Linked DNA regions of Homo sapiens. The protein of the gene in region 1 purifies or fractionates together with the protein of each later gene. This does not show direct contact. Each region holds a gene or a part of one and is shown on either strand. Other genes may lie near its edges.

The links.
Region 2: the proteins of MED13 (region 1) and LPXN purify together in Homo sapiens (co-immunoprecipitation; one large-scale study listed by IntAct). This does not show direct contact.

Annotation. Positions count from the first base shown.
Region 1 is NC_000017.11:61,943,157-61,946,778, reverse strand, and holds part of MED13 (mediator of RNA polymerase II transcription subunit 13), read left to right. Parts: intron 1-178; coding exon 179-311; 3' UTR 312-3,622. UniProt on the Homo sapiens protein: Component of the Mediator complex, a coactivator involved in the regulated transcription of nearly all RNA polymerase II-dependent genes.
Region 2 is NC_000011.10:58,565,765-58,569,386, reverse strand, and holds part of LPXN (leupaxin), read left to right. Parts: intron 1-3,622. UniProt on the Homo sapiens protein: Transcriptional coactivator for androgen receptor (AR) and serum response factor (SRF). Contributes to the regulation of cell adhesion, spreading and cell migration and acts as a negative regulator in integrin-mediated cell adhesion events.

The DNA.
Region 1 (3,622 bases):
ACTTGAGTAATCTACTTTTGAGAATAATTTTTATGGAAATTGCTTCTTTCCCCTCAAGGACTCTCTGTTACACTCTTTTTTAAGGTGACTTTGAGTCTTAAATGCCATAATTGAAAACTGCTTCCAAAATCTAGGTTGGAAATAAATAAATGACTTATGCAGTTTATTTGCTTTTCAGGTTTGTTTTGGAACAGTACAATGCACTCTCCTGGCTAACCTGTGACCCTGCAACCCAGGACAGACGCTCATGTCTCCCAATTCATTTTGTGGTGCTGAATCAGTTATATAACTTTATTATGAATATGCTGTGATCTTCATTTGATGGAACTGTGCAAGAAAAGAACAAGGAAAAATGGATGTTTCGCTGCAGGATTAAGTTACAATTATCTTCTCAGTGAAGGTCATTTGTGATGGGGTCTAATTCTTATTACTTCAACAAATATTGTTTTGACTTGGGGGGAGGGGCTATAACCCTGCTATTTTTCATTGACTCTATTGAACTCTTTAGGATGATGACTGATCATACAAAACGTATTATAACATTTTCGTAGCAAAATTAACCTTTTTTTTTTCCAGTCACAGTATTTGTGAAAAGTAATGAGCCATAGTACCCAGTCATGTTAAATGAATATTAAAAGCATGGAGAGGAAACATGAGGAACAATGAATTTCAACATATGGCTTCAGAACATGAAGATGTTCTTGTATGGATTATAGTATCTAGTATTCAAAAATGCCTGCATCTCTTCTCTTATTTATTGTAAGTTTTTAAATGTATAAATTGTCTTATATTTCTTAACCTCTTTTATAAAAATTTTCCTAGAAGGTTTATACTGCCTTCTTGCTTTAAAGCAATTGGTCTAAAATATATGTAATCGTCTTAATTAAAAAGTTGCAGTAGGGTTGCTTTTAGAGTATTATTTTTTTGTAAGGGGGTGGGTGGGACAGTAAATTTGTATTGTCTCGATGTACAGTTTAACGGGGATAGAGGGGGAATAATGTCCATACCATTGTGTGTGGAGGATTTACAGCTAAGCTGTAGTTGCAGAGTACATGTACAGTAATGAAGTTCACTGTGTTTATAAATTGAAAAGGTACCAGGTCTTACAGCATTTTATATATCACATCTTTACAGAATAACATGATGGCAATATACAAGTGGTATTGTTAGGTGGTTTAACTTAGAATAAAATGAGAATTCTTCAGTTATATTTTGTACTATGGTTTAGGGCTATGACTAATATTTCAGGCCATTTCCGGTGAAAGAAACTTAGTTTTACAAGAAAAACCATTTGCTACTGAATGCTTAAACTAATTTTAGTGTTTAATGTTACATGCTTAAATTTTTTTCAGTTTTAACAGTGGCATATTTAGGCATGGAAATATTATTATGAAATTTATTTTCAGGATCTGCTATAAGGTTGAAATTTAGCCCAGCTCTAGGCATTTTACAAATTATTTTTCAAGCAGTCATTCTTGATTGTTTGACTTTTTTTTTTAAATTAAAGATTGGGAATGTATGTGAGAGTATGCATATGTATGGGTGTGTGTGTGTGCGCGCAATCAAACTGTGGTGTAAATAGATTCTCAGTGAATTCTGGTATTCAGACTCTATTCCACTAGTGAAAGAACCATTTTTTAAACTTCCCTTGCCTTTTTTATTTATTTAATTTTCTTGGTTTGGAGATGTCAGTCCCAAACACCAGAGTCTGTACTTTTCTATAACACAGCTCAGATTAAGGTAGGGCATATGCCAAGGAGGTTCTCACCTCCCTAAAGAAGGGACTTGAATTTTAGGGACTTTAATTCACCCCTCCTTCAATACAACTTTCCCCCTTCTTGTTTGCACATGCCAAGATAACTGCTTTTATGCAGGCTGTACCCCCTTGAAAAATCCTTTCTACAGTGCTGCTCACAAAAGAGCCCAAGTTCGCCTCCTACCTGCATTGCTGACTTGAATTCACAGTCGCCGAGTCTACCTAGCTTTCTTGGAAGCAGTCTAGCAAAATTTCTATTTGTACGTTCACTAATTATCTACAAGGACAAAATCAGTTGTATTTACAAAACTCTACTTCAGTGTTTGTTTTAGTTTTTTTTTTTACTGAAACTTGTTTTTGTGAATACTCTGTGCTTAGAATTAAATATCACTTTCTTATGAACAACATAACTTCTTCAGATTGTGTATATGAAAACATTAGCAAGTCTTGTTTTTTCTATGAAGCAAACACAATTGGTGACAAAGGTTGTCAATCATTTCTTCAAAATTATAATGCAGTTCTAATGGTCAGCATATTTTGATATTAAATTTAAAGATCACCTCTCTGCATTTGTTTTTAAATTATGCTAATACACCACACATTATGTTGGTATGTTTTGTTCTGTACTTTCTTTAAAAAAAAAAAAAAAACTTGTCTGAGATTTGAAGGAAAATGTGCTTATTTGGAATTTCCATAAAAAGAGTATCCTTTTTATACACTTAATAGTGACTTTACAAAATAAAAGTTATATTCTCAGTTGTTTAAAATCACTAACCTATGATAACCACACCTCAATTTGAAAGTAGATTTAAAATTATTCCCTGACAGGTTATTTAATATGGAGCCATAAGGAGGGAACCCAGTACACAATTATTTTTTATTTGGGAATCAGGGAATAGTTCCCAAATATACAGGATTTATTGATAAGATTTTTTTTCTTCCCTTCATATATCCATTCAAACTCAATGGAAAGTTATTAAATAACCATTAGAAAAGCTCAGTAGACTTATTTGAGAAATTAAGCCTTGTGCAGGATGATGGATTTGACTTACTAATGTACTGTCACAGACAAATATGGGTAGTTTTGTTTAAATAGGTAAGCAAAATATTATACTTTATAGCAGTGGATTACCAACACCTTGACTTCTTTGTTACAGTGCTAACATCTTTTTTTTTGTGCAGGTATCCATGATTATTAAGCAGGGTGGAAGTTCAGTATTTTGTCATTTAAAAAGATTAGTTATATAATGTCTGCTTCCAGCCAGTGAGAAACATCTAGCCATACCTTTCTTATGCAAGCCATTGAGTTATCAGGACTGTGAATTAACACTGTATGAATAAATTTCTGTACACCTTATTGTTTGGCCAGAAGGCCACCAAGTGTACTTATATGTAATCCTTAAATTTTAAAGTAGCTGTAATTTTTAAATATTTCTAAACTTTTCTTAAACCACTAAAATTAAGCTCTTACTACTTAGTCAACTATCCTCAGCTGTATTCGTACTCAATTGTCAGTATGGCACAGATTACTGTATTAAAATATTCTCCTTTCGTCTTCATATTTACCTTCTGAGGTAATTTTTTAACTTAATGTGTTACTACAAAGATTTGCAGATCTTTAATCAAGCACTATGTTAATACTGTAATATCAGAATACTATGTTGCATTATTTAAAATGTTCAAATTGAATAGATTAAAAAGTTTTTAAATGCTATTGCATCATATAATTTGCTATTCATCCACTATGGCATTGCATATCAATCAGTTAATACACTTAATGTTGCATGAGTGATATTTTGGTCTGGGTTTCCTCTTAAGATTTTAGTTTGTCTGAATTAAGGAAAAATGTTTTTAATATACATTCTT
Region 2 (3,622 bases), on another chromosome or scaffold:
AAAAACAAAACTCAGAAATCAAATTTACAGTTAAAGCTATCAAGTAAAACAGCTATATTTACTCATATATGCATTCTCTTCCTATGGATAAGTCTATATGGACGTACATTATAATTAAAAGGTTGCTTGATGAGAATGGAATTAGTGTAAGATGAATTAAGTAGATGCTCTTCATAGCTGGTAATTTTGTACTATGATATTTTGATTCATCATTGTTCCCTGTATGAAATAGCCAGAAGCACAGACCTGAAATTTGAGCTCAGGGGTAGTTTACGCCCTAACTGTTCTTTTCTCCAGACACATACACAATTTTAACGATACGAATTTATCTCTCTACTAGGGAACTATTGTCTTTGTTCTCAGTGTTAGATTATAGCTGTAGGCTCCTAAGTGGTCTCCTGCCCTTTGCCCCACTGCAGTCTGTTCTCAAGCAGCCAGGGTCACCTTTAAAAACTAAAGTCAGACCCTGTCATTCTTCTACTCAAAACCCCAAAATGACTCCCATCTCATTTGGAGTAAAAGCCATAGTTTCATGTTGATCTTTCTGGGGTGACCATATATCCTGGTTTACCTGAAAGAGTCCTGGGTTTATGCTTGTTTTTCTCACATCCTATTAACTTTACTTTTTACCCCAGATCTTCAATTTTATTTAAAGTTTTCTTATCAGTATTTGCATTAAGTAAGCCACTATGGCTTAACAGACCTCCTTCCAGCTTCTTCCATGGTCTCATCTAGCAGCGTATGAAACACATATTCAGTGAACAGTGCTCTTTTTTTTTTTTTTGAGATGGAGTCTCTTTCTGTCGTGCAGGCTGGAGTGCAGTGGTGCAATCTTGGCTCACTGCCACCTCTGCCTCCCAGGTTCAAGTGATTCTCCTGCCTCAGCCTCCTGAGTATCTGGGACTACAGGCATGCACCACCATGCGCAGCTAATTTTTGTATTTTTAGTAGAGACAGGATTTCACCATGTTGACTAGGCTGGTCTTGTACTCCTGACCTCAGGTGATTTGCCTGCCTCAGCTTCCCAAAGTGCTGGGATTACAAGCACGAGCCACTGTCCCCAGCCAAATTCTGACTTAATTATGGTTAAATGCAAAAGATGGCTAATGATAACTTGTCTTTTTTCTTGATTCTGTTCAGATGAAACCTAGCTAGCAGCAACCTTTCAAGAATTATATGCAGGGTGCTGCCTGTTAAAGCTAAGAGCTCAAGCACAAGTACCTCTTCTGATCTTAGGTGGTAGCAGAAGAATTTCTGAGGCTTTTCCCCCTGCTGGCCACTTTGTGAACCACCACTCATGCCCTCATGTGGTCGTGTGGTGGGTGGCCTGTGAGATGCGTGGAACCTCCTCAGAGTCAGTAGAAAATGGGAGAAATTGTGGCTTAATGTCATACAAATTATGTTTAGGAAATAGAGGCTAAGTAATTTTGCCATAGAGTATAGTGTAACCTAATTGTTTTATTAAAGCAGTTTTGTTATTATTTGTATATGTGAAGCTCTATTTGTTTTATTATATGGTAATGCCTTTTGAATTTTACAATAAACCCTTTCAGCAGTTAGCTCAAAACAAAACCCACATGTTTAATTGTCTCAAGAAAGCTGATAATGAATATGCAACGTGCAGAAAATATTTTTCAATATTTACCATGTACCATGCAGGCAAGTAGAAAGATCACTATCCCTTTGAAAACCAGAAGGTACAAATATGGTGAAGCAGCTTTGGCATCTATTTCCAAAGTTAATAATTTAAGAAGAATATGCCTTAAAATGACTTCAACACGGCAGCTGCAGGAGGCCTATGTACATGTCATTGTGAAGCACACCTTCCCATTAGTATCAAATAACTCATAAATTAATTTTGCTCATTTTCAATTCCAAGTTTTCTTGTACTTGTAAGTAAACTGGTAATAATTAATGAGTGATTTTCCTTTGCAAACCTTCAAATAATGTTTTTTATAATAATTTCCTTAGAGGTCTCAATTCAAAAATGTATTAATTCTGAAATGTTTCAATTTTGTTTTTTATCTAATTCAAACAATCAAAATAAAATATGTGAAAATTTATTTCCTAGTCAAAAAGTGAAACATCTGACATTGTTAATGCCACTGTAAATTTAGTTGAAAAGCTCAACATTGAAGGTAAACTGTTGTTTTTGTTGTAAGAATATGAATACAAATGTTAATAGAGCACAGCATTGTGTTAAAAATGTTCTTACCAAGTTAACAAGCTATGAAGCAGAAATGTACTTGGAATTGGTTGTAATGTGCACAAAATTTGTGACTGCATTCAAACAAGCTGCGGTATTCTGTCAGTCAAAACAGAAACTAAAATTGTCAAAATGTATAAATTATAAATATATATATACACACACACACACACACACACAGATTTTATAAGTAACTGATCTACAAAACTTTTCTGACAGAAGCTGATATTGAACACTACCATGCAAGGAAACATTTCAGAATGACTATATGTATATTCCTGTCTGTGTTGCATGTCATCAATTGGATTTTGGGAATGCCTGAGCCTTTGAAAAACCACTTTGTAAAGCAACCCAAATTTAGATTGCATTATGTTCAAGACCAGTTGGAAATTTTTAATCGATTACTGAATGAATGTAGCATGAAAATTCAGCTTTTGAAGCTTTTAGCAAGTTACAATTATGTAAAATAAGGCTTGCAAAGGAAGAAGCTCAAATTTCTCCCTACAAAAGCGAAGAAGGAGTTGAACAAATCAAAAGATGAAAGCAGATATGGTTTAATTATCTATTTTGACAATTGTGCTTCAGAAAAATCTTGACTTTGATGTATTTTGACTTCTAATTTTATTTGGATAAATTTTTATTCTCTACCAAAATGGAGAAAAATTGTGAAAGTCTATGATTTTGCAGTATCTAGATTTGGTGAAATGTTGAAACAATCACAGATATAGACAACTTGAAAGTTTTATCTTGTAAGAAATTATTGAGCAAAAGTGCTTTGAATGAAGGTAGAAAGACAGCACCTATGACGATATTGGCCTGAAATATTTACATATTTTAATCTAAAAAATGAGAAGATTCTTCATTTAGCAGAACTTACAGGTTCATCAGTATCTAGAGAGGAAATGTGTTCTCAGTTAAAAACATATAGTGAAGCATCAATTAAAGTTGTCCATAATTTCAAATATATTAACCATAAAATGAAGTTTTGAAAAAGATTGCAGTTTTATAAAAAAATAACTGTTTAAATAAAAAACGAAAAAAAACACATGTTCCTGAAAAATGTCCACATCCCAATGCTAGAGACAATAATATCTAAATAACCAATTAAGGTATGTGAATACATATAAAGAATAATTGTCTGTACCATTAAAAATGTTCAGATAATCAATTTTTTGTTGTTGTTGAGACAGAGTGTCACTCTGTTGCCCAGGCTGGAGTTCAGTGGCATGATCTTGGCTCGCTGCAACCTCCGCCTCCTGGGTTCAAGCAATTCTCCTGTCTCAGCCTCCCGAGTAGCTGGGACTACAGGCACCCACCACCATACCTGGCAAATTTTTTTGTATTTTTAGTAGAGACAGGGTTTCACCATGTCTGGTCACATGACACCAGGCTGGTCTCAAATTCTCCTGACCTCAA